4 separate regions of the Homo sapiens genome follow, and regions 1, 2 and 4 are each linked to region 3. Evidence: fine-mapped expression QTL. A gene starts in region 3. Each other region holds a variant in brackets. All regions are shown on one strand. Distances are between the middles of the regions.

Region 1 (4,000 bases), 29 kb before region 3:
CTTAGCCGGGTTTGGTGGTGAGCGCATATAGTCCCAGCTACTCAGGAGGCTGAGGCAGGATAATTGCTTGAACCCGGGAGGCGGAGGTTGCGGTGAGCTGAGATTGCGCCACTACACTTCAGCCTGGGCGACAGAGCGAGACTCCATCTCAAAAAAAAAAAAAAAGAATGTCCCTTTCCAGGTGTCATCTGGCTTCGTTCAGTCTATCTTGGCTGGTGCCACTGTCCTCCTGGGTGTGTGTCTTGGTGACAATGGGTTTGAGCGTGCAGGGTTACCATCCAGGTGAGTGTCTGGATTCTGATGCATCTCTGCAACAGAATTTCTCAGCACAGGGAGTGTCTGTGGCTGTGGATCCTGCCAGCTGTGGCTCTGACAGGAGGGGTCTCTGGCCCTATCTCCAGGACCCAGGGGTCTCTCTGTCCCAGGAAGCATGGCTCTGTTAACAGTCCCGGCCGCGCTCTAGGTGTGTGGCCCTGCAGTTGTGAGTTTGACCCAGTTTCCATCACTGGGTGATGGTCTGGCTTTGTGCTTTTCCTCTTTGGCTCCGTGCCTTGGGGCCGGATTGTGTTTCTGGGGGTGGGAGCTCTTGGTTTCTGTCTCTTTGAAGTTTGCATGCCTGACTCTAGGTGTGCGTCTTTCTCAGGAGCTGGAGCCCAGGGCAGCTTCCTCGGGTCTATTCGTGAGGACCCTACCCAGGCCTCTACTTTCTAGGAACCCCGAGCAAAGTCCTCAACCCCCCAACTCTGCTGCCTTCACCTACCCCGACACCCCAAATCCAGACCCCAGTCTGAGGCCACGAGGGGAAGGCCAACCCTCATCTCCCCTCAGCCAGGCAGGTCTGCATCCCTCCCAGGTCGGCGGCGCAGCCTCCCCCAGTGCAGCCCCAAGTCCTGAAGGGCAGAACTCCAGGGGAGCGGACCCAGGTCTCCACACACGGCCCCCAAGACCCACTCACCTCGGACAAAGATGACCTGCTCAGCGCGGCCCATGCCCACGGCATTGGTGACTGTGCAGACGAAGGTGGTATTGAACAGACTGTCCACTGCGTGGATGACCAGCTGGGAGCCCTGGGCCACTGCGGAGGTCGGGAAGGTGCCTGAGGTCCTGGAGGGGTGTGGGGTCAGGTGAGAGGGATACCAAGGTCGAGAGGGGAGCACAGGCCTCATCCCTAAAGATACACCCACCAGGAGCCAAGCTCCAGGGACCTAAGTACTCCCGGAGACCCCAAATTGCCAAAATGCAAGCTCCCTTCATCCTGGAGGACTTAGGAATTTAGGCCCAGCCCCTCCTCCCTCAGATCCAGGAGTCCAGGCCCCCAGCCCCTCCTCCCTTAGATCCAGGAGTCCAGGCCCCCAGCCCCGCCTCCCTCAGACCCAGGGTTCTGAGACCACGTGACTCACGTGCTCCAGTCATAGCCCGTGGGCTCTGGGTTGCTGCGGACGTCACAGCTCAGGGTGGCATCAGTACGGCCGAGGTACCAGTTGTCATCATAGCCGGAGATGGACACTTCAGGAGGGTCTGGGGGAAATGGGGGGACTGGATCAGCAAGGAGGAGAATCCCAGAGCGGGTGGACAAGTTAGCAGATAGACAGGAATGCTAAAGAAACGGGGCGGGTTGGCAGGAGGTACAGCAGTCAAAACTGTCTGGGGCAAATCAGTCCAGGCTGTTGTGTGCTGATGTCAGTGTAGACACTGTTCAGGGAAACCACTGTGGATAATTTTGTGGGAGTTATTGTTCAGTGCTGGCAGTGCCTAAGGGAGCCACTACAAATAATGTGTGTGTGTGTGTGTGTGTGTTTTTGAGACAGGATCTTGCTCTGTTGCCCAGGATGGAGAGCAGTGGGGTGATCCTGGTTTACTGCAAACTCCACGTCCTGGGCTCAAGCCATCCCTCCGCCTCAGCCTCCCAAATGGCTGGGATTACAGGCATGTACCACCACGTCCAGCTAATTTTGGTATTTTTAGTACAGACAGGGTTTCACCATGTTGCCCAGGCTAGTCCCGAACTCCTGACCTCAAGTGATCTGCCCGCCTTGGCCTCCCAAAGTGCTGGGATTGCAGGTGTGAGCCACCGCACCCGGCCTGTGTGTGTGTTTTTGGCATGGAGGGAGGATGTCAAAACAGGGTTTGGGCAACCAGTGTAGGTCCCGGGAGGAAAGTGGCACAGACGAGGCTCAGGGGAGCTGTTGCACTTATGGGCGCACGTGATGCATGTTGCCTGGGGGAGCTGGTGTAGACTTGGCTTAGGGAATCTGTGTAAGTGGAGGCATTGCCTGGGGAGCTAGTGTAGACAACATTGAGTTGGGATATGTGGTCATTTTGGACAGTGGTGGAAGAGGTGGTTAAGCCAGTATTTGAGGGATTCTGTGTGAAGAGTGCCAGGGTGGCCTCTCTGGGTAACATTACGAGGTGTGAGTATAGGCAG[T/G]TTCTGGAAGAGCTAGCAAAAAACCCAGTGGGAGGGGTCAGGATCAACAGGGCCCGGGGGGTGGAGCCTGTAATGTAATATATAATATAATGTAATTATATTATATTAAATAACAATAATAAATAATGACAAAATATATGTTAATATATAATATATAATTTATATATTTTATATAATATATAATATATAAAAATATAATAATAAATAATAAATAATAAATACAATGTAAATAATATCAAGGATCAGGGGTCGGTGTAGAGACTCTGGGAGACTCAGTATAGATGGCACCTAGGGAAGTCAAGGCAGAAGTATGGGAAGGTGTGGAGACGATGTTAGGTTGGGCAGTGTAGACATGTAGACATGTGGACATGGCCCAGCATGATTGATCTAACGGTCCAGGGGCAGTGTCAACCGGGGTCCATGGGAGCCAGAAAAGACACTGTTGGGGGCAGCTCTTTGCTGGTAAACCAACTCTCTGGGGAATAAAAGAAGCCCCCATTTCTAGGGTTTGCCAATTTCCTTGGTGTAAATATTCCCCAAGGTTGATTTCAAGCTACCGAGAAGACTTCATTGGATGTGGAATTGGAAAGAAATGTATCAAACTGGCTCTTGCAAGCCCATCCCAGGTTACCACAGACTAGGCACAGCATGCAGGAACCCAGTAAAGCCAATGTAGACAATGAGGGGGAAGTATGTAGATTTGCCCATGGGAGCCAGTGTAGACAATGGCAGGAAGGTAGTGCAGAATTTGGCTTCAGGGAACCCACGTAGACAACATTCAGAGACAATGTAGACAGTGCTTTAGAGAAGCCAGTGTAGGCAGTTTTGATGGGGGAGGGGTCACCCCCGATACACTCACAGCGTACAGAGAGGGTCACAGGTATCAGGGCTGGTTCCTCGAAGCTCTCATGCTCCACTTTGCAGGTGACCGTGACACCATCTGCTCGGCCCGAGGGCACCAAGGTGAAGCGGCTGGTGACAGTGACAGTTCCGGCCAGGGTCCCTGACACCTGAGTCTCTTTGGCTTCCCAGTCCAGGGATGAGAGCCAGGAGATCCGGGCAGGTGGGCGGCCCTCTTTGGAGATGCAGAGGGCCACTGTCGTAGGGTCCTGGCTGAACGTGACCTTCTGGGCCTCAGCTTGGTTCTTGGGCTTGGCTGGGGAGAGGAGGAGAGGGGGTGCGTCACTCCTCACCGGCAGTCATTCAACAAACACTCAGCAGAGGAGCAGGGTGGTTAGGCCCTAACTGCCGGGGTTCCAATCCCAGCTCTGCTGCTTATCAGCGGCCTGGCTTGGGATAAGTGGTTTTGCAACTCTGTAGCTGTTTCTTGTTTTGTAAAATGGGGATAATGAAAGTACCCACCCCTAGGATTGCTGTGTGAATTAAATAATACATTGATAGGTAAATGGCTTAGGGTAATGTCTGGCCTGCACTGCCCTATCCAAGTGTTGCCCATTTTATTTTACTTTATTTATTTTTTAGAGACAGGGGCCCGCTCTGTCACCTGGTCTCGAGTGCAGTGGTGTGATCATAGCTTGCTGCAGCCTGCACCTCCTAGGCTCAAGTGATCCTCCC
Region 2 (4,000 bases), 38 kb before region 3:
TAGGTGTGGTGGTACGTGGTCCCATTTACTTGGGAGGCTGCGGTAGGAAGATTGGTTGAGCTCAGGAGGCGAAGGTTGCAGTGAGCTCAGATTATACCACTGAACTCTAGCCTGAGGGACAGAGTGAGATCCTGTCTCAAAAAAACAAATTTTGCATAGCTCGCATACCTCAGACTGCTCTGAGCTATTTTTCTTTTCTTTTTTTTTTTTTACAAGGTCTCACTCTGTTGGCCAGACTGGAGTACAGTGGTGTGATCATAGCTCACTGCAGCCTCCACATGCCCCCACCCCCACCTCAGCCCACCCAAGTAGCTGGGACTACAGGCATGGGCTACCAGGTCTGGGTAATTTTTGTATTTTTTTTGTAGACAGGTTTCGCCATGTTGCCCAGGCTGGTCTCGAACTCCTGAGCTCAAGTTATCTACTTGGGTTGGCTTCCCAAAGTGCTGGGATTACAGGTGTGAGGCACCGTGCCCAGTCTTTTATTTTTTAAGATACAGGGTCTTGCTCTGTCACCTGGGCTAGAGTGCAGTGGCATGATCATAGCTCATTGCAGACTTGAGCTCCTGGGCTCAAGTGACCTCCCACCCCAGCCTCCTGAGGAGCTGGACCACAGGTGTGCACCACTTTGCCTGGCTAATTTTGTTTGTTTTATTTTTTTAGAGATGGTGTCTCACTTTGATGTTCAGTCTGGTCTCGAACCACTAGCAACAAGAGCCTTGGCCTTCCAAAGTGCTGGCATTGGCTGGGCGCAGTGGCTCATGCTTGTGATCTTAGCACTTTGGGAGGCCGAGGCGGGTGGATCACTTGAGGTCAGGAGTTCAAGAGTAGCCTGGCCAACATGGTGAAACTCCGTCTCTACTAAAAATACAAAAATTAGCCGGGCGTGGTGGCGCGCATCTGTAATCCCAGCTACTCGAGAGGCTGAGGCTGGAGAATCGCTTGAACCAGGGAGGCGGAGGTTGCAGTGAGCCGAGATGGCGCCTTGGCACTCCAGCCAGGGCGACAGACCAAGACTCCATCTTAAACAAAAACAAAAACAAAACAAAGTGCTGGGATTAGAGGCAGGAGCCACCCTGCCTGACCCACCCTGCCTGACCAGTGTTACTCTTTATCTTCAGGTTTCTGGAATTTGTGATACAAAGAGCAATGGATAGCCAATCAATAGCTTACGTTATTTTAATGTAAATTCTCCATAACAATTTAGGAACCGCCCTTTCTTCTTTTATTAACAACTGGCCAGCCATGGTGGCTCACGCCTGTAATCCCAGCACTTTTGGAGTCTGAGGAGGGGGGATCCCAAGGTCAGGAGATAGAGACCATCCTGGCTAACACAGTGAAACCCTGTCTCTACTAAAAATCCAAAAAATTAGCTGGGCATGGTGGTGGGCGCCTGTATTCCCAGCTACTCCGGAGGCTGAGGCAGGAGAATTGCTTTAACCTGGGAGGCAGAGCTTGCAGTGAGCCGAGATTGCATCACTGTATTCCAGCCTCGGTGACAGAGTGAGACTCCGTCACAAAAAAAAAAAAAAAATGTAGTAGGATCCTGGGCTCCGAGGAGTCTTTGCAGAGCGGAGCGGTCAGAGCCACCCTGCGTGGCCATTTTTTTTTTTTTTTTTTTTTTTTTGTAGATGGGGGTAGTCTTCCTATGTTACCCAGACTGGGCTCAAATTCCTGGGCTCAAACGATCGATCTCCCCACCTCAGCCTCCAAAAGTGCTGGGATGGCAGGTGTAAGCCACTGTGCCTGGCCCCCAGCTAATTTTTAAATTCAATGCCATACTTTATAGCAGAGAGAAACCCATACCTCCCTACTCCATTTAGACCCCAGTTCCTTTAGGTCTGTCTGTTTCACACAGCCATTATGGAGAATTTTCTCCCACCCTCACCCCTACCCCATACTCCTCAGTTCTTCGACCCCTCTCCCATCCCCGTCTCAGGGCCCATCACTTACTCTTCGTCCTCCTCTGCCCCCTGCAGCGTCTGCTCCTTCCGCTGCTGCCGGCAGATAAGGATGCCCGTGGCAGCCACAGCAGTAGCAATGATGGCGGCGATGATGCCCCCGATGATGCCGCCTGTGGCCCCTGCGCCTGCTGTGTTGGGGGTCTCTGCAAGGAGAGGGACAGCGTGAGGGGGTCTCCAGGAGGAAGCCACAGCTCCTTATTCCAAGCGACCATCCCACCCCACATCATCGCCTGCCTGTCTATGTCCTCTCCCATGGGCAGGGGACATTCTTTCATTCAACTCAAACTGCTGAGCATGAGGAAGGAGCGAGGATGTGTGCCCCGCATGGGAGATGAGTGGAGAACAAAACATACAAAGTGTCTACCTTCATGGAACTTTGATTCTGGTTGGGCAGGGAGAACAACAGTAAGCAAACCAGTACAATAGCTCACATGCCAGATGGGAGTAAGTCACGGGGGATACAAAAATATACAGTGCGGAAGTGATAGGAGGTGCAAAGTGGGGTCCC[C/T]GAAGGTAGTGGGAGGGCCTCTACCTTACTGTAAGGTGACAACTGAGCAAGGGCCTGAAAGAGACACCGGGGATGAGTCATGAGAGTGTCTGGGGGTATCGCAGGCAGCGCAAACAGCCAGCGGCCCTGCAGGAGGCTTGTGGGGCTCTATGGTTTTTTTTGAGACGGTCTCGCTTTGTCACCCAGGCTAGAGTGCAGTGGCATGATCACCACCAACTGTAGCCCCAATCTCCTGGGCTCAAGCGATCCTCCCACCTCACCCTCCGGAGTGGCTGGAACTACAGGCATGTGCCGCCAGGCCCAGCTTTTTTTTTTTTTTTTTGAATTTTTTTGTAGAGATGGGGTTTTGCCATGTTGCCCAGGCTGGTCTTGAACTCCTGGGCTCAAGTGATCCTCCCGCCTCGGCCTCCCAACGTTCTGGGATTATGCCGTGCTCGGCCTGCCTTGTATTGTTTTTAAAGAACAGCAAGTAGACTGTGTAGCTGGGGCAGAATGAGGCGGGGCAGAGTGGGAAGATGAGAGGAGAGGAGACAGGACCAGGGGCGGCTAGAAGACAGAGAATGCGGGGACAGAATTCTGGGATCCAGAATCACCTCTGGGGACTAGAATCTCCTTCCACTTATCAGGAAGGGGGTTAGGGCTTGGGGCAGTGACTGACGCCTGTAATCCCAGCGCTTTGGGAGGGCGAGGCGGGCGGATTGTTCAAGACCAGCCAGGGCAACGAGCACAAGACCTCATCTCTAGAAAAAATTTTAAAAATTAGCCGGGGGCTAGCCGGGCGCGTTGGCTCACGCCTGTAATCCCAGCACTTTGGGAGGCCGAGGCAGGTGGATTACCTGAGGTTGGGAGTTTGAGACCAGCCTGACCAACATGGAGAAACCCTGTCTCTACTAAAAATACAAAATGTTAGCTGGGCATGCTAGCGCGCGCCTGTAATCCCAGCTACTCAGGAGGCTGAGGCAGGAGAATTGCTTGAACCTGGGAAGCGGAGGTTGCCGTGAGCCAAGATCGCGCCATTGCACTCCAGCCTGGATAAGAGTGAAACTCCGTCTTAAAAAAAAAAAAAAAAAATTAGCCAGGGGCCAGGCACAGTGACTCACACCTGTCATCCCAGCACTTTTGGAGGCTGAAGTGGGAGGATCGATCGCTTGAGCCCAGGAGTTTGAGCCCAATCTGGGTAATATAGGGAGACCACCCCACTTCTTAAAAAAAAAAAGGCTGGGTGCGTTACTCAAGAGGCTGAGACAGGAGAATTGCTTGAACTTGGGAGGTGGAGGGTGCAGTGAGCCGAGATCGTACCACTGCACTCCAGCCTGGGTAACAGAGCTAGACACCGTCTCAAAAAAAAAAAAAAAAAAAAAAAAAAAAAAGGCAAGACAGGAAAAGGGGTCGAGAAGCGAGAAGCCTGTTTGCTCCTGGGCCTCTCCTTCCTTGCTAGCACCTCCCGTTTCCATTTCTCAAGTCTTTCCTAATGGAAGAGTTTTTGGAGTGGTTACCCGTTTACTTGCCAATTTCCATACTAGACTGT
Region 3 (6,874 bases):
ATGGAAGCGGAGTTCCCAGCTCTGGGTCAAAGCTGGGAGGCCAGTGAGAGCCATCCTGGGGGAAATGAGGCCAGAGAGGTGGCCGGGGTTCCCCCAAGATCCCCCTGAGCTCTCTTCTGCGCAAACCCTCGGGAAACTCTAGCATCCCAGAGTTTGTCGCTGGGAATACACAACCGGGTCACCTGCAAGGGGCGGGGCCAGCGCCTCTTTCAAGGGTTCCCTCCCAGCCCCTCCCTCCCCAGGGGGGCCGCTCTCCTCCCCTAGTGGGGTGGATGGAAGGACGCCAGGGGGTCCAAGGCATAGCAATGGGAGGGACGGGGGATAAGGGCGGCGGCTCCACTCGTCCACCTCCTGCTATGGCTCTGAGGACAAAGGCGCTACCAGAGGATAGATAAGGTCCCGAAACCGGGGAGTCCGGAACCCGGAGCCAGGAGCGCCCGCCCCGCCCCTCCCTGGCTCGGCGAGAGTGAAACCAGGAAAACTTCCCCGGCGACGTCTCCGTCGCCCCCGACCATTCATAGGGAAAGGGAGGAGTCTCCCAGCCTCTGGGACTCGGGGCCTCCCGTTCTATCTGGGACTCAGGCGACTGAGACTCCAGCCTCAAGACAGAGCCTTCGACCCTTGATCATATCTGGAGCCCAAGAGACGGGGCCCGCTGCTCGCACTTCTGTTTGGATCTCAGAAGACGTTCCTCTGCCTACAATTAAGTCTGAAGCCCACGAGATCGAGTCTCCTGTCCCCCGGTTCTGCCGGGAACCCTGAAAACGAAGCCCCCTGCCCACAATTAAATCCAGAAGCTACAAGTTTGATCCTCTCTCGCCCCCAGTTTTACCTAGATCCCAGTTAGACTTAGCGCCTAGCCTCCATTCTACCAGGGACCCTGAAGACGGAGCCCCCGGCCCCTAATTTTTCTGGAGTCCACGGAGTCAGAACCCCCAACTCCCTGAGGTTCGGGGTTGGAGCTCCGAGCTCAGGCCCTTCCCCCTAAGTCGCCAGAACTCTTATCCTTAGCCCTCCAAGGGACCCGAATCAGGTCCGCTTGTCCTCAGTTCTCTCCGGGCCTCAGACGCCCAAGCCGGGAAGAAGGAAAAATAGGGGAGGGAGGTGGTCTCGCCTCTTCCTCGAGACCTTACTGCGGTAGGTGGGGGGAACATTCCCCACATTCCTGAGAGGGGTAGAGGAGACAGAGACCCAGATCCGGGTGAACTACTCGGCGCGGGGTGGGGAGGGGGCACCAGGCCTTCCTGGGATTTAACCCTTTCGGCGCGGGAATCCGAGAAATGGGGAGGGGGACAGACAAGCAGGCGTAGGATGGGCAATTGGATTAAGAAGGATGGGGGTGGTGGTGAGAGAGATGCAGAAAGGAGGGGTCAGAGTCTCCTCGAGAGAATCGGACGTGTAGGGGGTCGGAGTCTGTGGGGCCAGCCAGGAAGGGGGCACGCGAGAGGGGGCTCGGGGAGCCGGGGGTGGGCGGGGAAGGTGCTCGGCTTCCCCAGCTCGGAAGGTAAGGTTGGAGGGGGTCCGCGCGAGGGCAGGGGGCCGTCCGCTCGTCTCACCGGTTTCCAGGAGCAGCAGCAGCAGCAGCGGCCACAGCAGCGGCGTCGGCGGCGATCTCGACGGCAGGAGGGCAGCGGCCCGGGCCATGGAGGGCCCGGGAGGGGACTGGGCCCGGCCGGAGGCCCGCGGGCCACTCTGTGGGGGCCGATCGGCTGGGCGGTTTAGTAGGTGCCTGTGGGGCTCCGGCTCCGGCTCCGGGCCGGTTCCCGCTGCGCTCTAGCCTCCCTGTTCTGCTCTCCCGGCCCAGCTCTCCCCGCCCGGCTCGGCACCCCCGGCCTCTCGCTCAGCTCCGGCGGTTCGAACCCGCTGACGTCACAGGATCCACCCGCTGCTCCCCCGAGTCAAGCCGACCCTGGCTCCGGCCCCGCCCCCTCCTGGCGTTCTGACCCCGCCCCCCGGATTCCACCCCTGTTCCTCCCCGGGATTCCATTCTCGCTCCTCCCCAGGATTCTAAGGTCGCCCCTGCCAAAGAATTCTGTCTCCTTCGCTCCCGGCGTTAAACCACGCCCCCTAAGGTCTAGCCACGCCCCCTCTGCTCCCGAGTAGTTCCCACGCCCCGCCCCCTGCCTACCGGCCGCCTCGCCAAGGTCTTGCCACGCCCCTTTCGGCCCTTCCGGCCGACTCCGCCCCCACCAGCCCCGCCTCCACCAGCCCCGCCCCTCGCCCTAGCCGGAGTTCTCTCGGTCTCTTAGCTCAGTCCGTCCTGGCCTCTGTCCCACCCACAGTTCGAATCCTGCCCTTTCCTGCCTGCCCGGGTCCTCTCATCACAGTTGCCTGAGGCACGTGGGGCTTTACGGTTCTGCCCCCAGCACGTCCCGGTTGTGCGACCTCCCCGCAGGTCGAGCCCATCGCCCTGAGCCTGTTTCTCGTACCCTCGTGCGTTTCTAATCTCTGCCCCGAACTCTAGGTGTCGCTGCACTCGTTTCTTTCTGGATTTCTCTGTCTCTCTTACGTGTCTTTGTGTCTCTCTCACTCTCTTTGGGTCTTCCTCTCTGTCCCTGTATTTCTGCCTCTCTGGGTCTTTCCGTCCTCATGCTTCGGTGTCGCTCTGTTTCTGGTCTTCCTTTGTCAGTCACTGTTTCTTTATTTCAATAAAAGAGACGGGGCGGGGGGGCGGCGGGGTCTCACTATGTTGCTGAGGCTGGCCTCAAGCGATCCTCCCGGCTCGGCCTCCCAAGATGCTGGGATTACAGGCGTGAGCCACCAAGCCCGGCCTGTCTGTCACTGTTTCTGGGTCACTTGGTCCCCATGTCTCTTTCCATCCTTTGACTCTGTCTCTGTGTCTCTCTGTCTCTATCTGTGTGCCTCTCTGTCTCTGTCTCTATTTCTGTGTATCTCTGTCTCTATCGGCCTGTCTCTGTGCCTCTCTGTCTCTGTGTGCCTCTCTGTCTCTGTGTTTCTCTGTCTCTATCTCTGTGCCTCTCTATCTCTGTGCTTCTCTGTCTCTGTCTCTCCGTGTGTCTCTCTCTGTCTCTATCTGTGTCTCTCTGTCCCTGTCTCTTTCTCTGTGTCTCCCTCTCGGCGTCTCTTGTCTCTGCGTGCGAGTCTCTCTCGCTGTCTCTCTGTCCCTGCTCTGTTCTCTGCTTCCTTCCCTCCCTACCTCCCTGCGCGCCCTGGTCCTCCCCTCCCAACACCTGCTCCGCGCCGCCTTCTCACCGCAGCCACCCGCCAGGGGGCAGCAGAGACCGGCCCCCGCGCTGCGCTGGCCCGGCCGGGCTGGGTGGGGCTGGGCTCCAGTCCGGCCTCCGGACCTGGTCACTCCCCGCGTCCTTGTCCCACTTCCCCTATCTCCCCAGCCTCCTCGCGTCTTTGTGTCTCTCGCTCAGACTCGGGCCCTTTGTCTCTCCCAGCGGCTCGCCCTCCTCCCTACCCCCACCTACCTCTTCGCATTCTTTGGGCTGCCCAGGGGGAGCTGGTGAGGCCGCGCCGGGGGGCGGGATGAGGGCGCGAAGCGGGAGGCCGGGGGAGGGGGTGCCACGGAGCGCCAGTCTGGGCCCAAGTTCGTCCAGGGCCAGGAGGCGCGGAGCTGCTCAGCTGGGGGCAGGTGCTTGGGGGCTTCTTGCCCTAGCAAGAGGACCACCTAGGCTCGCCCTCCCTTCCACCTGCCACACACCTGGGCTTTCCTCCCCAGAAGGACTAGGTTTCAAGTAGCAGAGGCTGTTATCCCTCCGCATTCGAGTCTTAGTTATGATCCTTTTTTTTTTTTTTTCTTTGAGACGGAGTCTCGCTCTGTCGCCCAGGCTGGAGGGCAGTGGCGCGATCTCGGCTCACTGCAACCTCTGCCTCCTGGGTTCAAGCGATTCTCCTGAGTCAGCCTCCTGAGTAGCTGGGATTACAGGCGCGCGCCACCACGCCCGGCTAATTTTTGTATTTTTAGTAGAGACGGGGTTTCACCATGTTGGTCAGGCTGGTCTCAAACTCCTGACCTCCTGATCCACCCGCTTCAGCCTCCCAAAATGCTGGGATTGCAGGTGTGAGCCACCGCGCCCGGCACTTACGATACTGTTAATACATGTAGTCAGCACTTACCGTGTGCCAGGCACTGATCTAAGTGCACTGCGAATATTATCTCATGTAAGCCATGCAGCGCCATGGGCGATAGGGAAACTGAAGCAGAGAGATGAAGTGACTCACTGAGTTACAAAATGGCAGAGCCAGGGCGGGGCGCCCTGGCTGACGCCTGTAATCCCAGCACTTTGGGAGGCTGAGGCGGGTGGATCACTTGAGTTCAGGAGTTCGAGACCAGCCTGGCCGACATGGTGAAACCCTGTCTCTACTTGGGAGGCTGAGGCAGGAGAATCGCTTGAACCCGGGAGTTGGAGGTTGCAGTGAGCCGAGATCGCACCACTGCACTCCAGCCTGGGCAACAGAGTGAGACTCAGTCTGAAAAACATAAAATAAAATAGAAATTAAAAATAAATAAAAATAAACAAAATGGCAGAGCCAGAGCTGACTCTTCTAAGCACCTTATTTCTCTTAGTTAGTTCCTCACAGGGATCCCATGAAGGGGACACCATGGTGATCCCCATTTCACTGAAAAGTAAACTGAGGCACAGGGTGGTTGTTTGCCCCAAGCCACCCAGCAAAGACACATAGCAGGCCGGGTGCTTCTTTTGGGCCCGGATGGTCTGTGCTCTTTTTGTTTTTGAGACGGAGTCTGGCTCTGTTGCCAAGGCTGGAGTGCAGTGGCGCAATCAATCTCGGCTCGCTGCAACCTCCGCCCCCCAGGTTTGAGTGATTCTCCTGCCTCAGCCTCCTGAGTAGCTGGGATTACAGGCACGCACCACCACGCCCGGCTAATTTTTGTATTTTTAGTAGTGACGGGCTTTCACCATGTTGGTCAGGCTGGTCTCGAACTCCTGACCTTGTGATCTGCCTGCATTAGCCTCCCAAAGTGCTGGGATTACAGGGGTGAGCTACTGCACCCGGCCAGTCTGTGCTTTTAACCTCCATGCCATGTGAGCTCCAGATAGCTTGTGTCTCAGGCTTGGCACAAACTGGGTGTGAGGATGGCTGGACAAATAGGCGCACACATAATAAATGCATAGCAGCTACAGCTACTCGGGAGGCCGAGGTGGGAGGATCACCTGAGCCCAGGGAGGTTGAGGCTGCAGTGAGCTGTGATTGAGCCACTGCACTCCAGCCTGGGAGACAGAGAGATTTTGTCTCTAAAATAAATAAATACACAAATAGGCCTTGCGCAGTGGCTCATGTCTGCAATCCCAGCACTTTGGGAGGCCAAGGCTGGCAGATCACTTGAATTTAGGGGTTCAAGACACGCCTGGCAACATGGTAGAGCCCCGTCTCTTAAAATATATATAATAATAAAATAAAACAGTAAAATAAATAAATGTGCTTAATTTATTTATGTATTTAATTTTGAGGCAGGGTTGTGCTTTGTCGCCCAGGTTGGAGTGCAGATCTTGGCTCCCTCTAACCTCAAACTTCCCAGCCCAAGGGATCCTCTGCCTCAGCCTCCTGAGTAGCTGGGACTACAGGCATGTGCCACTATGCTCGGTGCATTTTTTTTTTTTGAGACAGTCTCTGCTCTGTCGCCCAGGCTGGAGTGCAGTGGCGCGATCTTGGCTCAGTGCAAGCTCCGCCTCCCAGGTTCATGCCATTCTCCTGCCTCAGCCTCTCGAGTAGCTGGGACTACAGGTGCCTGCCACCACGCCCAGCTGATTTTTTGTATTTTTAGTAGAGACGAGGTTTCATGGTCTTAGCCAGGATGGTCTCGATCTCCTGACCTCGTGCTCCACCTGCCTCGGCCTCCCAAAGTGCTGGGATTACAGGCGTGAGCCACTGTGCCCGGCTGCTCGGTGCATTTTTAAATGTTTTGTAGAATTTGATTCTCGCTTTGTTGCCCAGGCTGGTCTTGAACTCCTGCCCTCAAGTGATCCTCTCACCTCAGCCTCCCAAAGTGCTGGGATTACAGGTGTGAGCCATCGCGCCTGGCAATAAATGTGCTTTAGATCTCTCTGACCTTCTCTCCCCAATCTGAGGCCAGGTTTGTGGACCAGGACCTCTGGGTTTTAGTGCCAGCCTTGCTACTAACTTGCTTTGCAAAATCCTGGGACCCCCGTTTATCCATTGAACAAAAGAACCAGTCCCCAGGAAGTCTTCTTCTAGGAAGGCCTCTAGCACCTCCTTTCTCCTGGCCTACGAATGAGTGGGCTTAGCTCTCTCCTGGCTGTTCTTTGTGAGCAGGGATGAGCCCAGGAAGAAAGCCCCAGGAGGCTGGCCATGGTGGCTCAAGCCTGTAATCCCAGTACTTTGGGAGGCCGAGACAGATGGATCACCTGAGGTCAGGAGTTTGAGACCAGCTTGGCCTACGTGGTGAAACCCTGTCTCTACTGAAAATACAAAAATTAGCAGGATGTGGTGGCGGGTGCCTATAATCCCAGCTACTTGGGAGACTGAAGCCGGAGAATCGCTTGAACCCGGGAGGTGGAGGTTGCAGTGAGCCAAGATTGTGCCACTGCACTCCAGCCTGGGTGACAGCAAGGCTCTGCCAAAAAAAAAAGGAAAAAAAAAAAAAGAAAGAAAAAAATGCCCCAGAGGTGTAGGCTGGAGTTTCACACCCTTGGGTCACAAGCATGAGGCTGAGCACCAAGTTTGGTGACAAATGACTGGGTGGGTTCCACGCCCGCCTGGGGAGTTGACTTTTAGTGTCAAGGAGTCCCAGAGGTGGCACTTCACTGAAGAGCCATAACCACTAGAAGGTAGGGGCATAGGTAGGGGCAAAGGCTTCCTGACGGAGCTATGGAGCTGATGCCAAGTATTTTACCTGCCTGGCAACCTTTCCTTTCTTTTAGCA
Region 4 (4,000 bases), 24 kb before region 3:
CACCGCCTTCTCCCCTGACCATCGTGGAGCATCCAACAAGCCTCCCCACATCCTCCTGGCCGCCCTCCAAGCTGTTAGAATAGTGACTCAGGGCCCGAGCCCACCACTTCCCCATGGCCACCTCCCCTGGCCACTCCACATGCTCCCCATCCACGCCCTCCTCAGTCTCTGCCTCCACCCACTTTGGGGTTTTGGTTGGTGATTTTGTGCCTGGATTGCTTTGGCCTCCTTCTCCAGACCCCACTCCAAGCCCCACTTCGTCAAGGGCACTTTCCTGACCGCCGACTCTGGCCAACTATTCCTTGGTGGCTCACGCATCATGAAGACAGAGGCTTTGGCTGTTTTGTTCCTTACTTCTGCACCAGTGTGTATACGGAAGCTCTTGAGGTTATCTCTCTCTCTCTCTTTTTTTTTTATTAATTTGAGACAGAGTCTTGCTGTCACCCAGGATGCAGTGCAGTGGTGCAATCTCAGCTTACTGCAACCTGCCCTTGCTGGTTTCAGCAATTCGCCTGCCTTAGCCTCCTGAGTAGCTGGGATTACAGGTGTGCGCCACCATTCCTAGCTAATTTTTATTTGTAGTTTTGGAGACCCTCTCTCCAAGAAACAAACAAACAAACAAAAGCTCACTTGCAAGAGCTGCTTGCCTTGGCCCCTGCTTGAAGTGTATATTCAGGGCAACTTCAATCTATGCTCCCAGGTGGTCATCCTCAAGCTTTGGGCTTGATTAAACCCTACACTTAATCATATTTTCTTTTCTTTTTTTTTTTTTTTTTGAGATGGAGTCTCGCTCTGTCGCCCAGGCTGGAGTGCAGTGATGCGATCTCGGCTCACTGCAAGCTCCGCCTCCTGGGTTCATGCCATTCTCCTGCCTCAGCCTCCCAAGTAGCTGGGACTACAGGCACCCGCCACCACGCCCGGCTAATTTTTTTGTATTTTTAGTAGAGACAGGGTTTCACCGTGTTAGCCAGGATGGTCTCAATCTCCTGACCTCGTGATCCGCCTGCCTCGGCCTCCCAAAGTGCTGGGATTACAGGCGTGAGCCACTGCGCCTGGCCCTTAATCATATTTTCTGAGTCTCATTATTTATTTATTTATTTTGAGACAGAGTTTTGCTCTTGTTGCCTCTCAGCCTCCCAAAGTGCTGGGATTACAGGTGTGAGCCACCGTGCCCAGCCCTGAAGTTATCTCTGGATGAGAACAAATGATTGCACAAGAAGAGAGGCGTTTGTGAGGGTGGGGAGGAGAAGAGCTGTCCTTTGTATTATGGAAAACGGCTGTGGTTTCATGTGTTACTGGAAAGGGAAGTGTTTACTCAAGGATAGCACAGGGTGACCTTCTCAGACGCTCTGGGCTGAGAAGGGGGAAGAAAAGGCATCCAGAGTGACGTGGCTTCTGGGAAGTTGCCTAGGGAAGGTGGGCTCCCAGGGGACTTCCAACATATTTTTTTTTTTTTCCAGACAGAGTCTCACTCTGTCGCCCAGGCTGGAGTATAGTGGCGCGATCTCGGCTCACTGCAAGCTCCGCCTCCCGGGTTCAAGCCATTCTCCTGCCTCAATCTCCCGAGTAGCTGGGACTAAGGCACCCGCCACCAC[G/A]CCTGGCTAATTTCTTGTATTTTTAGTAGAGATGGGGTTTCACCGTGTTAGCCAGGATGGTCTCGATTTCCTGACCTCGTGATCCGCCCGCCTCGGCCTCCCAAAGTGCTGGGATTACAGGAGTGAGCCACCACGCCCAGCCTCAAGATTTAAAGAAAGAGCATTCGTAGCTGGATGTGGTGACTCATGCCTGTAATCCCAGCTATGCAGGAGGCGGAGGTAGGAGGATCCCCTGAGCCCAGGAGTTCGAGTCTAGCCTGGACAATGTAGTGAGACTTTGTCTCAAAAAAAGAAAAAAAAAAAAAAAGAAAAAGGAAAAGAAAAAAAAGCATCCTTCAAAAAAAATCTTCCCTGCCTTCTCTATTTTTGCCAAGTATCAGTCACCTTCCCGCTGGGAGTCCTATTTTTTTTTTTTTTTTTTTGAGACAGGGTCTCGTGCTGGAGTGCAGTGGTGCAATCTTGGCTCACTTGCAATCTCTGCTTCCCAGGCCCAAGCGATCCTCCCACCTCAGCCTCTTGGGTAGCTGGGACTACAGGTGTGTGCTACCATGCCCAGCTAATTTTTTTTTTTCTTGTAGAGATGGGGCCTCACCATGTTGCCCAGAGTGGTCTGAAACTCCTGACCTCAAAGCGATCTGCCCACCTTGGCCTCCTAAAGTGCTGGGATTACAGGCGTGAGCCACCGCACCAGGCCTGGGACTCCTCTCTGATCCTGCTTCCCCCTCAATCCATGGGCAAGCCCAGCACCTACTATCTTCTAAAAACACCACTATATGCCGCCCGCTTCCCTCTGCCCCCCACTGCCTCATCCGTCTTCCCAGCAATGCCTCTTCTCCCCTCTCGTCCCAGCTCCCTTCTACCTCCGTCCACTCCTCCAATCACTCCTCATACTGCTGCCGGTCATTTTTTGCAACCTCAAACGTTTGTCCAGATCTCTCCTGTGGCTTGACACCTCCCATGGCTCTTAACCATGCTGAGGGCATAGTCCAGCCTCCTCGCCTCCACCTGTGAAGCCCGTGTAATGTGGCCCCGCTGAGGGTCACCCAAGCCCTTGCCTATCCTCACCAGCCCCCTTTCCATTCCTGGAACGCGCCCAGCTCCCATCTCATGCCCACCTCCCAGGTTTCTGTGCCCGTGCCCCTCTGCTATGCCCAAAGGTAGCTCCTTCTCAGACTCCAGGACTTGACTAAGACGCCTTCCCTGCACATCCTATCTCAATGAGGCCACTATGTCCCCTACTTCTAAGCCGTTTTACTTCCTGCCCGGACTGGACTTGTTTTAAGACAGGGTCTCGCTCTCTTGTCCAGGATGGAGTGCAGTAGCACAATCACAGCTCACTGCAGCCTCAACCTCCTGGGCTCAGGTGATCCTCCCACCTCAGTCTCTCGAGTAGCTGAAATTACAGGTAAGTCACTGAGCCTGGTTAATTAAAACAATTTTTTTTTCTTTCCTGGCCAGGCTCAGTGGCTCATGCCTATAATCCCAGCACTTTGAGAGGCCCAGGTGGACGGATCACCTGAGGTCGGGAGTTCAAGACCAGCCTGGCCAACATGGTGCAACCCCGTCTCTACTAAAAATACAAAAAAATTTAGCTAGGTGTGGTGGTGGGAGCCTGTAATCCCAGCTACTTGGGAGGCTGAGGCAGGAGAATTGGTTGAACCTGGGAGGCGGAGGTTGCAGTGAGCCGAGATCGCGCCACTCCACTACAGCCTGGGTAACAAGAGCAAAACTCTGTCTCAAAAAAAAAAAAAATTTTTTTTGTCATTGAGACAAGAGTCTTACTATGTTGCCTAGGATGGTCTCAAATTCCTAGGCTCAAGGGATCCTCCCACCTCGGCCTCCCTGAGTGCTGGGGTTATGGGCGTGAGCCACAGCACCCGGCCCCACCCGGACTTTGTAGTTGCCTTACCCTGTGGTTTCTCAGCTCCCATTCTTTCCCCTCCCAACACAGCCAGGAGGAGCTGGTGAGAACCCAAGCCAGATCAAACCTGTCTGCTGCTAAGAACCTACTACAGCTCTTATCCTCCCTGGGCAAAAGCCAAAGGCTTCTTATAGTCCACAAGGCTTTTGCCAATCTGTCCCCATCCTCTCCTTGACTTTATTGCTTCCTACTTTCCCCCACTCATATGTCTCCAGCCACCCTGACTTCCTTCCTGGCCCTCAAATACTCCAGGTATTCCTGTCTCAGGGCCTTTGTACTTGCCATTCCGTCTGCCTGGAACGCTCTTCCCTTAGATACCCAGAGGGCTCCTCCTCTCCTAGTTTCTGCCTAAATATCCCCAGACCTCCTTAGCTAGAATTGCAACTTGGCCCTCTCCAACTTCCATGGCCCCTTTAACTGCCTGACTTACTCTTTTATTTATTTATTAGAGATAGGGCCTCACTCTGTCACCCAGGCTAGAGTG

What was found. PIP is the estimated chance that this variant, and not a neighbour inherited with it, causes the effect.
Region 1: its variant is fine-mapped to the expression of NECTIN2 in whole blood (TOPMed, PIP above 0.99).
Region 2: its variant is fine-mapped to the expression of NECTIN2 in whole blood (TOPMed, PIP above 0.99).
Region 4: its variant is fine-mapped to the expression of NECTIN2 in whole blood (TOPMed, PIP above 0.99). The same link has a PIP of 0.9 or more in blood mononuclear cells.

The regions. Positions count from the first base shown.
Region 1 is chr19:44,871,434-44,875,433 of GRCh38, reverse strand. NECTIN2 (nectin cell adhesion molecule 2) reads right to left here. Exons shown (of 9, transcript NM_001042724.2): 3 at 3,285-3,581; 4 at 1,401-1,518; 5 at 956-1,104. Among named protein-coding and RNA genes, the nearest start is that of TOMM40, 18 kb to the left of the region's middle. The variant T/G (reference allele first, on the strand shown) is at 2,426.
Region 2 is chr19:44,880,318-44,884,317 of GRCh38, reverse strand. NECTIN2 (nectin cell adhesion molecule 2) reads right to left here. Exons shown (of 9, transcript NM_001042724.2): 6 at 1,954-2,107. Among named protein-coding and RNA genes, the nearest start is that of TOMM40, 8.9 kb to the left of the region's middle. RefSeq lists enhancers at 2,883-3,732, 3,733-4,000. The variant C/T (reference allele first, on the strand shown) is at 2,473.
Region 3 is chr19:44,841,296-44,848,169 of GRCh38, reverse strand. NECTIN2 (nectin cell adhesion molecule 2) reads right to left here and starts at 1,873. Exons shown (of 9, transcript NM_001042724.2): 1 at 1,557-1,873. The coding sequence starts at 1,644. RefSeq lists an enhancer at 1-163 and silencers at 1,803-1,902, 2,033-2,112, 2,193-2,242, 3,110-3,509.
Region 4 is chr19:44,866,369-44,870,368 of GRCh38, reverse strand. The region is part of intron 2 of NECTIN2 (nectin cell adhesion molecule 2); the gene reads right to left. Among named protein-coding and RNA genes, the nearest start is that of NECTIN2, 22 kb to the right of the region's middle. The variant G/A (reference allele first, on the strand shown) is at 1,596.